Linked DNA regions of Homo sapiens. The protein of the gene in region 1 purifies or fractionates together with the protein of each later gene. This does not show direct contact. Each region holds a gene or a part of one and is shown on either strand. Other genes may lie near its edges.

Region 1 (7,036 bases):
CCAATCCAGTAAAGTTTCTGAGTTCTAGGGATAAAAAACAGAGTTAATTTTCTTTTTCCTCTTTGGACTCTAAATTATTTGTTCACAACTTCAAATCTATTTAAAATATTTCTCCTTATTGCTCAGTGATATTTTATTAGATAAGCATCATGTTTGTGAACACTTTCCACTTCCCAGCCAAATAACTCCTGACTACAGTAGCAGCATGGGACATTGATGTGCACAGAATGTTGATAATATTTGTTATATTAATAAGGAGGTTATTAGATATTCAACATTTATTGAATATATGCAATTTGCCAGATTCTGTGTGAGCCACAGGATACAGAGTGATGAATAAGACCCAATTACTATCATCAAGGAACTCACAGAATACAGGATAAAAAGAGTTTTGAGTTTTGTATGTGAACTGCAGAACTGCTAAGCATTTTGGACTCCAAGAAAGAACAATAGTAAGCTTTTAGATTCTGGGGATAATCTTTTTAGCTGAAGCTAGGGTTGCCGGATTATAATTTGGGTGCGGGAAGTTTTACTAATGCTTCTTTGCAGTGGAGAGTATGGCCCCTTTATCTTTTAAATAGAATGCAACTGAGATGTGAGCCCCTTTGATTCTCTAGATGATTTTTTGGGGTGGTCTCAGCCCAGACCAGAGTGGTAGGGTCAGAACTTTGTGTGAGTCTCTGTGGTTCTACCAGAACAAACATAGGCCTGATATTCTAGCAACGCATTTGGATGACTTCCATATATCCAAATACACTATCCGTCTCTGCGCGAAGCTGTGAACGTGATGTGTGCCTAATAATACTAACACTTGCTCATTTCTGAGCCGTACAACAAAACACTGTGCAGTTACAAACTTACGTGGGGTATAGTCATTTTATGAACTAGATCTTCTTTTCTCATTTTTATTTTCTTATCATGAGCCTCCCTTCCCAGACATTAACACTAAAGCCAGAAAAGGAAAATGGAATTCTCCAGTTCTAAAGAACATTGGGTTACCATTCTAGAAACCTTTCTCAGGTCTGCAATGTTGACTCACACATTAATGCTGGGAGAGGCTGAAGATTTAGAGTCATCAGAACAGGAGAAGAGAGTGTAACTTAAGCGTGTAGAAAGGAAGCAGTAAACTTGTCCTTGAACCTATTAAGGGCTAGAGTTGATACTGTCTAAATAAGTTTGTTGCACGTGGTATTGGAGCAAAATATTCTTTCAGAGGAGGTGCTAGAAGTAGGGTTCTTTAGGTTAAAAAAAAATAACTTTGGAGTGTTGTAATCTATACAGTTTCAGTTCTGTTATGAGAAATGCTATTGCAAAACCAAAGCAAACACCTGCTACCTAGAAACTCTATTTTGTGAGTTTGCCCGACCTCAGGTGCTGGGTTGGAGTGGTATTTGAAACCATACTACTCCGGGTTTGCCAACAAATTTCAAAGCTTCCTTGGTTACCTTCCAAATTTCAAGATTTTGTGGTGTTGAAATAGAGTAAGTAAATAACTTTACAGAATATAAAATCTGAAATTTTCAAACATTCACCCAATATACCATTTTACTTTCGTCATGGTAGCTGCTGACCTCAGTTTTGACCGATTTGGCATCAGAAGGCAAATTAGAGAAGCTTCGGTGTTGTTGCTTAGTTTGAGCAATGAGGATAAAACCCAGAAAGTTTAGGTTAAGTGACAAGCATTCCTAAGGACATGTAACTAAGCAGTGACCAAACTGGTCCAGAAACTTCAGGTTCCTCATCCTAAATTCATTGCTTCTTTGACTATACTGCACTATTTTCACTCGTCCTCTGAAGCTGCCAGGGGAAGATTGTGCAATTTCCTGGAATATGTCCCCATCCTTGAATCATCTCTACTCAGATAGGTACAGGACACCCTGACTGATCCCTGGAATCCTTCTCTGTGCCACTCTGGTATTAGACTTCTCCGCTGTGACAGAGCCTTGGCATCCTTCTTTCCTCCCTGAGTCAGAGCTGAAACAGCCAACTGTGCATCAGAGCTCTGTGCTCCAGCTTCTCTCTCGATACATGAAGGGGCTTCCAGCGCTCTGCAGAGCAATGAGCCCTGCACGAGGGCAACGTAGGAAGCCTGACAGAGAAAACTGATATGCCTTCTAGATCTTTAGCCACAGCAGGGTCTAACGCTTAGGCTTCTTGTTTGTTTTCATTCCGTCAGAGTCTACAACTATTGTACACTAAAGGGTAAAGAGAAATGAAAAATATGTAGAGAGTCAAGGCTGGGCTTAAGAGGCAAAGGGTGACTAGGAGAATAGGGAGGACTAGCATAGAGGCCACAGGGAGCTGATGGGCAAAGGAGAGCAGAGCCGAGGGATCTAGGGGACCAGAGAGAGCTCACTTCTCCTAACCATCTGGCAATGCCTGGAGAATGGAGATTGAGTGTGTGTGTGTGTGCTTGTGAGAGAGAGAGAAGGAAGAAGAGGGAGAAAGAGAGAGAGAGAGGCAGAGAGAGAGAGAGAGATTCTCCATGTGTAGTTTATTTTAGGTTTGATCATTTTCTTCTTTCAAGCAAAGTGGCTAATCTTGAAATGTCTGCAAACCTCATGCATATGGCATGAAATAATTCGATTCCCAATTTGGGATGAAGACATTTTGATCTTAGGTAAGTGCTGAATATCTCCTGTAATGACAAGCCCTTTGAGAAATGCACGTGTAACTAAGGTCCAATTATAAATACTCACTACATCTTCAATTATGCTTTTAAATTATTCATATTCAAAAGAACCTATTTTGCTTGTTTTCTTTCTCTGAAAGTGACCCAAGAAATGGACATACCTTTCTATAAAATCAGTAGATAGTATTTAAATGCAGCTTTCATCCATAAGAGGCTTAAAAACAATTCTATAATAAAACCAGTAAAACAAAAAAGGGAGACCTAGAGTCTTGGATTTGTTCCTTTTCTGCTATTATTAGCATCACAAAAGGACAAGGATAAGGAGATAATCATGTTTAAGGAGATTGGAAGTGACTCTCAAAGTTCTGTTAAATTTCAGGGTTTCTCCTTTTCTCAAATTTAATTCTATTTCTTTTTTTTTTTTAATAAAAGAAACAGCCCTTTTGGGAGGGAGGCAAGATAGGAGTTTCCAAAAGGATGGGAAGTGCTGAAGTACTGGGACACTTGAATAAGCTTTCACATATTTATTAGTGCCAGGCCAACTTGAGAAATAAAATATAGATGCAATTGCTTACTAGATGTTTCACAGGTGGATAATATGACATTCTGTAGTTTGCTGTGTACATATTAGAAAATCGTCTGTTTCTTTCTTGTTCTTTGGTTGAATGTGGGCCCAAAAAAATCATTCTTACAATTATGCTGATTGTTTTTTTTTTTCCCTGTGTAAAATGATTTCAGACACAATGGTGGAGCTTTGTTCAGTTCCCATCAGATTTAACTAAAGAGTGGTTTTAAACATTTACGTTGAAGTGACCGTTGACTTTTTATTACCTAGAAAGAGTTAGGTGCTTGGTGATGCCAACAGGATGACATGTTTCTTCTTCTTAGCCACAGGAAAGCTCCAATATACTCTATTCATTGCTCAAGTGGACCTTAAAGAATCACTTTGAAAGGACACCATGGCTGACGACTGAAGAGTCATATTTATCAACATTAAATAAACACTTGGTGTAGTATCCATAAATATTTCTGCATATAAACATAACACGAAATTAAATAGTTCAGATACACAGACACCACTGAGTACACTTCTACTGTTGTCAAAGTCGTCTGTAAACACCACCTCACACTGAATACAAAAGCAGCTTCTACCCAGCTCTGGGTTCACAACACGAATGCCCTGTACAAAGGGAAGATATCTCCGCGGCCCTCCCACCTCCCTCCCCTCCCTCTCCCCAAACAGCCCCGGCAACAGGAAAAGAAACCCCAACAGCTACAGCAGCAACAACAACGACAATGATGGCAGCACCCCATCCCCTCCCCAAATGAAACAGTTAACATTTTGGTCAATTCAAGGGAGAATGCAAAAAAACAATTTTTTTTTTTTCCCAAAAGGTAAGGAAATCAATTTGAAGCATTACTTTTCAGAGTGTAATTCTTTCTTCAGAGGACATGTAACTTCCTAAAACCTCACCTATTCCTGGGTGAAGGTTACACAATGAACACCAGAAAGCACTGGCCACAGCTGATTAACAAAGGTGCAAGCCCTATTTTCTTTGAGAAGGTGCCATTCAGCAAGAATCAAACACAATGTTCTCCTTCATTCTCTCTTACCATGTTTTTTTTTTTGCTTTGCCATATATATATATATACACATATATATATATTGCTGTGTATGACATTCAAACGTGACACTATTATTGAGTTTCAAGCAGTTTAGATAGCAGAAATTTTGTTCTGAAACATTCAGATTTAGATGATTAAATTCAAACGTGTGGATGTGGTTCATTCTTTGAGCTCAGAGGGGCCCCGATTTAGCTCTGTTGAGACATCAACAAAGGAGGTTGCTTAACACCAAGTCTGGCGAAGCCACGGCGCTCAGCTGACTCACGAGCCTGTCCGCTCTGCACAGACCTGCTGGGAAGGCCTGGCTGCTCTCTGTGGAAAACAGCCCTGGTTTCAAAAACATTACACTGGGCTTATTTCACGTTAATGTTGCATTAGGATCCTAGAGAACTTCAGTTACCAAAGTACTGAAAGCGTATGTTGCAGGAATAATTTGCCAGTTCAGTGTTTCCCATGATATTATATACACTATGTGTGTGCGTGCAGAACTCACACATATATATATACTTAAGTATTTTTATTTGTACGAAACTTGAACTGCACAAAACAGTACTTTGCAAGAATCAAGAATCAAGTCCACAAATAGAGTTTAACAACACACCAAAGAAAAGACAGGAAGCTCTATTGGGACAAGAAGATTCAGCTTTGCAACGTATGAAATAATTTTGGAACCACAGATTCGTAAGCCTGCAGTGTTCCACTTGGGGTCTGGATTCCCACTTTTGGGATCCTTGGGAAGAATGTGGGAACTGGGTCAGCTATGCTCATCTGAGATTCCAAAGCTAATGGGAATTAAAGGACCCAGGCAAATCACTTTGGGTATATAATTGCCGTCAAGCAATATTTTTCTCCTCTTTAAGAAAAAAACACGTAAAGTCTATTTCAGAATAAATTTCTTTATATTCAGTAGTATGTTTTTTTTTTCTTTTTGCTGAATTGGTATTGACTTTTTCTATTAAAATGGGTTTATTCAATGGATCAGTAAACAGGCAGCTTCTTTCACATCTGGGTGATAAAACCATTTTTATCATCACCAGAAGTCACCCCGCCCTCGCCTTCCTCCTCCTAAGGTCTGTGGGTTGATGTGTGCGTTTTGTCACTGCTATTGATACAACCTCATTCTACAAGGCCTGCTCGGGTGCGCGCTTGTGAAAAATGACCGACTGTCTCTGCTGGTACTGCTGCTTGCGCCTCTTTTTTTTGTCACACTGGCACAGCAGCAGCATCTTGAAAGTGGTTCTGAATGTTTTGTTGCACAGAGCATAGCACACGGGGTTCACGGTGCTGTTGATGTAGCACAGCCAGTAGCCCAGATTCCAAAAGGTTTTGGGTATGCAGCTGTCACAAAAGGTGTTCACCAGAACCATGATGTTGTATGGGGTCCAAGTGATGATGAAGGCAAGCAAGATCGCACTGAGGGTCTGGGCCGCTTTCTTCTCCTTGACCAGGGACATCCTTTTCCGCTTAGTGATCTGACTTCTGGTCTTCAGAGCAAACCTCTTGGCCAGAGTGGCTTCCTTGAAGGACAGAGGTAGAGTGGCCGTGCTCTTACCCACTGAGGAGTTGACGTCAGAAGTCTTAGCTGTGTCCACGGCTGACTCTAGCTGGATGGGAAGCTTGGAGAAGCTTTTTGGAAAACTGCCTCCATCGTCCACGCTCTTCTGGGCCTGCAGCTTGTCGGCTTTCCTCTCCAAGTCCACCATCCCCAGCTCCTCCTCAGGCACCTGCAGGTTGTCCGATGAGGGTAACTTGGTGGAGTTGAGGATGGTGCTGTGACCCGGAAGCTTGAGCACGATGGAGTAGATGGCTCTCGTCTCGGAGCCAATGTCCTCCTCGTCGGAGGAGGCGGAGTTCTCCAGGGAGGCAGCAGCATCATTGTTGTTCCAACTGTCACTGCTGCTGTGGTCTTGGTCCATCTGCTCGGAGCTGGGTTTCCAGCTCTTGGTTGTGAACCAGAAGTGGCAGCGGCCATACTTCCTCCTGTTGGAGCGTTTCATGCTTTGCTGTTGAAGTTCGTAACTGCTGCAGCTTCGAGAACTGCCCGTGGGGTGGACAAAGTTTTCTGTCTCTGCCTCTGTCCCAGAGGCTTGCAGGCCAGCAAGCTCTTTGGTACGCTTTTCAGTTTCCTTATAGATCCTCCAGTATAAAATAGTCATAATGGTGACAGGCATATAAAAAGCAGCGATGGCTGTGCCAAAAGTAATGGTGGGCTCACTGAGGAACTGAATGAAGCACTCTCCCGGAGGCACAGTTCTCTTTCCAACAAAGTATTGCCAGAACAAGATGGCAGGAGCCCAAAGGACAAAGGAGATGACCCAAGCCAGACCGATCATCACACCGGCTCTCTTTGTTGTTCGTTTGGCTCGGTACGTGAGCGGCCTCGTGATGGAAAAGTATCTGTCAAAGCTGATGACCAGAAGATTCATAACAGAGGCATTGCTGGCTACGTAGTCAATGGCAAGCCAGAGGTCACAGGCCAAGTTCCCTAAGGCCCATCGATTCATGATGATGTAGGTCGTAAACAGATTCATTGAAATGACCCCGATAATCAGATCGGCACAGGCCAGGCTTAAGAGGAAGTAGTTGTTGACCGTCTTCAGCTGCTTGTTGACCTTAAATGACACAATTACCAGGATGTTGCCGATGATGGTCACCAAGGCCAGGATGCCCGTTAAGAAAGCGATGAAGACCACTTGCCAGACGGTATGACCTCCCAGAGGGTCATCGGTGGTACCGTCTGGAGAGGAGAAATTGCCAGCTGCTCGAGAAACATTGTAG
Region 2 (7,036 bases), on another chromosome or scaffold:
AAAATCTAAATAGACAGAAACAATCAGACATTATGTGCCTCCAGATGTGATCTAAATATAAGGTATACAGCACTACATACAAGTTATTTTTGCTGCAAATGTTTAATCTGAACCTAACCAAGCATCTATACCTAATTTCTAGTTTACTACAAATGCAGGAGATGGAGAAGCAAGTTACAGGAAAACAATCAGACAAATCCAGAATGTGGCACAATTTATAAGAAATGGCCAATCATTTTATAAAAATAAATATCAAGCAAAAAAGATGGAGGAAAAGACATAACTACTCAATGCTGGTTGTTTAAAAAAAAGTTATAGCCAGGCACGGTGGCTCACATCTGTAATCCCAGCACTTTGGGAGGCTGAGGTGGGTGGATCACCTAAAGTCGGGAGTTCGAGACCAGCCTGACCAACATGGAGAAACCCCGTCTCTACTAAAAATACAAAATTAGCTGGGCGTAGTGGCGCATGCCTGTAATCCCAGCTACTCGGGAGACTGAGGCAGGAGAATCGCTTGAACCTGGGAGGCGGAGGTTGCAGTGAGCCGAGATTGTGCCATTACACTCCAGCCTGGGCAACAAGAGCAAAACTCTGTCTCAAAAAAAAAAGTTATAAAAGATAATTTGGTGACTCGGGAAAATTTGATTACGGACTAGGTAGTAGATGGTACTTGTTCATTTTCTTTGGTACTGGTAATGATACCAGTATTGTAGTTACATAGGAGAACGTCCTTATAACCTGAAGTACACAGAGCTGACAACTGGAAGGTTCATCATACGCATACGCGCTTGTGCACATACACAGAGCAAATGTGGCAAATGTTAATCAATACTCAATCACGACTGTGGGGCTACAGTTCATTATTATACAGTTTATTATTATACAGATGTTTGTTGTATTGTTCAATTTTTCTGTATATTTGAAAACCTGGATAACAAAAAGTTAAGAAAAAAAAAAACCAAGTCAATGCCAAGAAAAGAAAAAAAGGAAACAAAATTCTAAACTATAAGAGACTGAAGAGATAACAACCAAACACAATGAGTGAATACTGGGTGCAAAACAACTACTCTAAAATGTATTTTGGTAACACTTAGGGAGACTGAAACATGAACTGTGTATTAGATATTAGGGGACTATGATTAAGTTTCTTAGGTGTGGCAACAGTATTGTGGTGGTACAGAAGAATGTCATTATTCTTAGGAGATGTATGCTAAAGTAATTAGGGATGGAGGGTCACAATGACTACAACTTTGAAATGGCTCAGAAAAAAATAAGAGAGTCAGAGAAACAAACGGATAAGGCAAACACTGTAAAATGTTAACATTATTGAATCTACACGGTGAGTATATATGTGTTCTTTGTTTAATTCTTTATACAAGTTTGACATTTTTCATAATTAAAATGGATACAAAGTTTTTATAGGGCCGGGCGCAGTGGCTCACACCTGTAATCCCAACACTTTGGGAAGCCTTGGCGGGTGGATCACCTGAGGTCAGGAGTTCCTGACCACCCTGGCCAACATGGTGAAACCCTGTCTGTACTAAAAATGCAAAAAATTAGCCGGGTGTGGTGGCACATGCTTATAGTCCAAGCTACTGGGGTGACTGAGGCAGGAGAATCACTTGAACCCAGGAGACAGAGGTTGCAATGAGCCAAGATCGCACCACTACACTCCAGCCTGGGCGACAGAGCAAGACTCTGTCTCAAAAACAAACAAACAAACAAAAAACCTTTTTTTAGGTAGATAATTCATGTCTATTATGGTTACCCTTTAAATGAGGGACATCTCCTAGCTCAGCAGCAACAAGTATCCTCTGACTTATTCACTCAATGTATTACCAAACAATATACCTACCTAAGTAAGAATTAAGATGTTGCACGCAAGTTCCCAAAAATTCATCCCTTTGAGGTGGATCATAGTTCAATACGCTGAATGGACGAATAATAGCAGGGATTGTAAAAGGATGGATCTGTATAAAAAGAACAAAAAATTTATAGTTTAAACTTTAGGAAAATAAGACAAAATTTTAACCTAATTATTTTTTAGGAGAAATCTTTTCCTATCATCGCTACAGTTAAATAATAAATGTATCACCCTGCTTATTAATTTTTCCATCCTGCTATAATTTATTTAACCCCACCAACATTATTAATAACCCCAAAAGTGTTAATGTAACAAAAAAGAAGTAAATCAGATAATTTACAAATTTATTTTGTTAGGTGTAAAATTCTGTTCTGGCTGGGAGTGGTGGCTCATGCCTGTCATCCCAACACTTTGGATGGCTGAGGTGGGAGGATTGCTTGAGGCCAGGAGTTCGAGATTAGTCAGGGCAACATAGTGAGACCCTGTCTTTATTTAAATTTAAAATAAGTAAATAAATTCTGTTTCAGAATTCATTAGTCACTAAATTGAATAGGAAACAGTATCAGCAATTTCCATGATAATCAGTACATTTTATAGAATAATCATAATTAAAGAAGTTTCTTAAATTATAATCACTAGCATTTATTTTTCTTTCATTTGCTTTTTTATTTCATTTTTCACTCATTCATCCAATACTTAATGACTTCCAGGCACTATACTAAGCAAGTTAAGACAAACTTTTTATTTTCATTTGTGAGAAACACTGTCTTTTAAATAAAGGCCTTGCCCTGATATATTTATGATAGTGATTTTGTAAGTGAGCTGCTTCTCACATAATCCATAAAGCGGCATTTTACAAGTCCCAGAAATAAATCTGCAAGAAGATGCAATGACAGTTTAAGAATATAGTTGCCAATGGATACCTTATAATTTTCTCAGTTTTCAAGCTTATCTCACACTTTTGAATATAATTGTTTTTAAATGGTAAAAATAATACCACACGATTACAGAAATAAGAAAAAGTAAAACCAAAAATCATTCATACTCCACTGTCCTAACATGAGTATCCTCAAAGAATTGATTACTAATCTTAATACTGTAATGAACCAAAGAATGATTGCTGATCTTTCCAAATCTACAATGCCGGAATGAGAAAGTGACTTTAAGGAGAGGAACAACAAATCGCTGAAATAGAAACCAGAGTTTTCTTTGTTTTTCTTAAGAGACAGGGTCTCACTCTGTCACACAGGCTGGAGTGCAGTGGTGCAATCATAGCTCACTGAGCCTTAATTCCTGGGCTCAACCAATCCTCCCACCTCAGCCTCCCAACCGCTGGAATTACAGGCTTGAGCTACCACATCTGACCCAGAATTTATTTAATTTTTAAACCTCAAATTCCAATCCAAGTTCTCAAAGTGCCTATGATAAAAATTATGCTTGCAGAAGTTGACAACTCTATAAAATTAATGTCTACCATTTAAATTTCACCTTTTCAATCTGCTGAACAGCCACTGAGGCTATCCTATCTAGTAGCAAAGTACTGAGGTAATCAGTACTAGAAATAAAAGATGCAATCTCCCCAACATTTATGTAATTAATATCATCCATGAAATGCTGTAAAGTAGCAATCATTTCTTCAAGAAGTGACTCAGGAAACGTGTTTCCTTTGAGAGATTTAAGTTCCTTCCGTAACAGATCCAAACTGTTGCTGTGTTGTAGTCTCTGACGACCATAGTGATCTAATTTTTGAAGTAGTTTCAGTTGTTTCGCAGTCATATTATCCAAATACATGTGATCATGCTGAATCCATCTTAAAACAGATGTGGCAAAACTACTCAGGTTATTTAGGTCACACTGTGGTAAAACGGCTTCAATTCGGGATATCCCCACTTCGTCCAAGTGAGGAGAAGGGAGCAGGGAAATAGCACGGACCAGAACAGACACCTCAGTTGGTATGAAACTATTTTTCAAATAACTGCAAAATGAAAAATGAAAAGAATACATCAGCAACAAACCCAAAATATATATGTATTAAAATATGAATACATATGAGTACAATTAATAGGTAAGATGATGATTCAAAAAAACCTCTTTCAAACTATGTTTCTCCTCTAATCTCAAACCACAACAATCATCAACCACAGAAGACTTCTGTGACCAAATGTGTGGGAGTTCTTCCAAGCAGCGGATACCAACTGGGTGTCCAATTCAGTTCTGACACAATCTACCTGGGGACAGTGTCAGATCCCACAGGTTGGGAACTTGGTCTCTAAGACTAACCTCTCCCACAAAAACCCCAGACTCCACTTGCAAAAGTAGGCCTCCAGAACTTCTGAGCAACCGGCTTCAAGTTGGGTTTCCCATGACCTCCTCTTTGGGTTTGATTAATTTGCTGGAGTGATTCACAGAACTCAGGGAAGCAGTTGTTTATGTTTACAGGTTTATTATAAATGATATTATAAAGAATGCAGATGAAGGGACAGTAGGGTGAGGTATGCGGGAAGGGGTGCAGAGCTTCCATGCCCTCCCTGACCATGCCACCCTCCAGGAACCTCCACGTGTTCGGCTATCCGGAAGCAGTCCAAACCCAGTCTTCTTGGGTTTTTATGAGCTTCGTGACATCAACATTTCCTCACACAGGGTGTAGGGTGGGATCTCTCAGGGGAGCGTCTTAAGACCCACGATCAGAAAGGTGGAGGGAGATTAGAGTCCTGCTTTGGGGCAGGAGAGAGATTCTCTTTCCAGAGGCCTAACATACCCAACATTGTTAACAAAAGGCTATAGCAAGAGCTATAGAAGTTATGAACTAGTAACTAGGACAAAAGCCAATATATATAACATCACAGGTGGGCATAATACAAGTTAATTTAAGAAGAGTTAGATAGGCCAGGCACGGTGGCTCATGTCTGTAATCCCAGCACTTTGGGAGGCCAAGGACAGGGGTTCGAGACCAGTCTGGCCAACATGGTGAAACGCTGTCTCTACTAAAAACACAAAAAAATTAGCTTAGCCAGGCATGGTGATGTGCACCTGTAATCCCAGCTACTCAGGAGGTTGAGGCAGGGGAATCTCTTGAACCAGGGAGGTGGAGGTTGCAGTGAGCCAAGATCGTGCCACTGCACTCCAGCCTGGGCGACAGAGGAAGACTCCATCTCAAAAAAAAAAAAAAAAAAAAAAAAAAAAAAAAGAGTTTGATAAATTCAAAGATGACAGGTCCATAAAGGATTATTCAGGAAAGCCTAAGACTTCCTGATGCCCTCCGTCTCAAAAAAAAAAAAACAAAACAAAAACAAAAAGAAAAGAAAAGAAAAAAAAATCTTTAAGTATAGAAATAGTGGAAGGAATAAAGGAATAAAACAGGAAGACCTGTTCTGAAGCACAGGCCAAAATTTTTTATTCAAAAATAAAACCACAGTCCCAGGGAAACAAAAGGTCCATGTCAGAACAATGTTTCCAGTGCTGTCGCTGAAGAAAGAACTTGGGTTCAATTTCTGATATCACCTGTCAGGCCCTGGCATGCAGTGATCACGTAATAAAATTGGTTCCTTTTTTGTTTCCGATACACAGTCCAACATTTAAAACAAATGAATAAACAAACAACAACAAAAGAAACAGGACATAGTTGACCTCATTCTCTACTTCATTCCGAAATCCCCATGGCAAGAGTCCCACCACCAGGACAATAATTGTTAAAAAAAAAAAAAAAAATTGAAAAACTGGGGCCGGGCATGGTGGCTCACACCTTTAATTCCAGCATTTTGAGAGGCCAAGGCGGGGGATAGCTTGAGCTCAGAAGTTCGAGACTAGCCTGGCCAACATAATGAAACCCCATCTCTACTGAAAATACAAAAAATTAGCCGGGCGTGGTGGCACATGCCTGTAATCCTAGCTACTGGGGAGGCTAAGGCATGAGAATCGCTTGAACCCGGGAGGCGGAGGTTGCAGTGAGCCGAGATCACGCCACTGCACTCCAGCCTGGGTGACAGAGCAAGACTCCGCCTCAAAAAAAAAAAAAAAAAAAAAAAAACTTTAGGTATAGAAGTAGTGGAAGGAATAATACAATCTAAATTAAAACAAAATTGAGGCTGGGCGCGGTAGCTCACTCCTGTAATCCCAGCACTTTGGGAGGCCAAGGCGGGCAGATCACGAGGTCAGGAGATCGAGACCATTCTGGCTAACATGGTGAAACACCGTCTCTACTAAAAATACAAAAAAGAGTTAGCCGGGCATGGTGGTGGGTGCCTGTAGTCCCAGCTACTCAGGAGGCTGAGACAGGAGAATGGCGTGAACCCGGGAGGCGGAGCTTGCAGTGAGCCGAGATGGCACCACTGCACTCCAGCCTGGGCGACAGAGCGAGACTCCATCTCAAAAAATTAAATAAATAGCTGGGCGTGGTGGCTCACGCCTGTAATCCCATCCCTTTGGGAGGCCGAGGTGGGCGGATTACCTGAGGTCGGGAGTTCGAGACCAGCCTAACCAACATGGAAAAACCCCGTCTCTACTAAAAATACAAAAAAGTTAGCCAGGTGGGGTGGCGCATGTAATGCGCTGTAATCCCAGCTACTCGGGCGGCTGAGGCAGGAGAATCGGTTGAACCTGGGAGGCGGAGGTTGCGGTGAGCCGAGATTGTGCCACTGCACTCCAGCCTGGGCAACAAGAGCGAAACTCCATCTCAAAAAAAAATTAAAAATAAAAATAAATAAATAAATACATTGAGTTACTTTTAAAATATTTTTTAAATTAATTTTTTTCTGGAGACAGGGTCTCACTCTGTTGCCCAGGCTAGAGGGCAGTGGCGTAATATAGCTCATTGCAGCCTTGACCTCCTGGGCTCAAGTACTCCTCCTGCCTCAGCCTCTCTACACACTGGGGATATAGGTACATGCCACCACGCCCAGCTAATTTTTTGTTTTTTGTTGTGGAGACAGGGTCTTGCTTTATTGCCCAGGCTGGTCTTGAACTCCTGGGCTCAAACAATCCTCCCAGCTCAGTCTCCCAAAGTCCTGGGATTACAAGCATGAGCCACTATGCCTGGCCATTTAAAATATTTAAATTAGCATACTAAAATAATCGTAATATTAATACTCAGTGTTAGCAAGGGTGTACTGATACAGGCATTCTCATTCACTATTAGTAAACTTAAAAAGTTGGTGTAACTTCCTGGAAAGTAAT

The links. The genes of interacting proteins can lie anywhere in the genome.
Region 2: the proteins of CHRM3 (region 1) and FASTKD1 purify together in Homo sapiens (affinity purification with mass spectrometry; 2 studies listed by BioGRID and IntAct, with this or other methods). This does not show direct contact.

What each region holds. Positions count from the first base shown.
Region 1 is NC_000001.11:239,907,568-239,914,603, reverse strand, and holds part of CHRM3 (muscarinic acetylcholine receptor M3), read right to left. Parts: coding exon 5,380-7,036; 3' UTR 1-5,379.
Region 2 is NC_000002.12:169,542,866-169,549,901, forward strand, and holds part of FASTKD1 (FAST kinase domain-containing protein 1, mitochondrial), read right to left. Parts: intron 3,840-7,036; coding exon 3,353-3,839; intron 1,971-3,352; coding exon 1,856-1,970; intron 1-1,855. UniProt on the Homo sapiens protein: Involved in the down-regulation of mitochondrial MT-ND3 mRNA levels which leads to decreased respiratory complex I abundance and activity.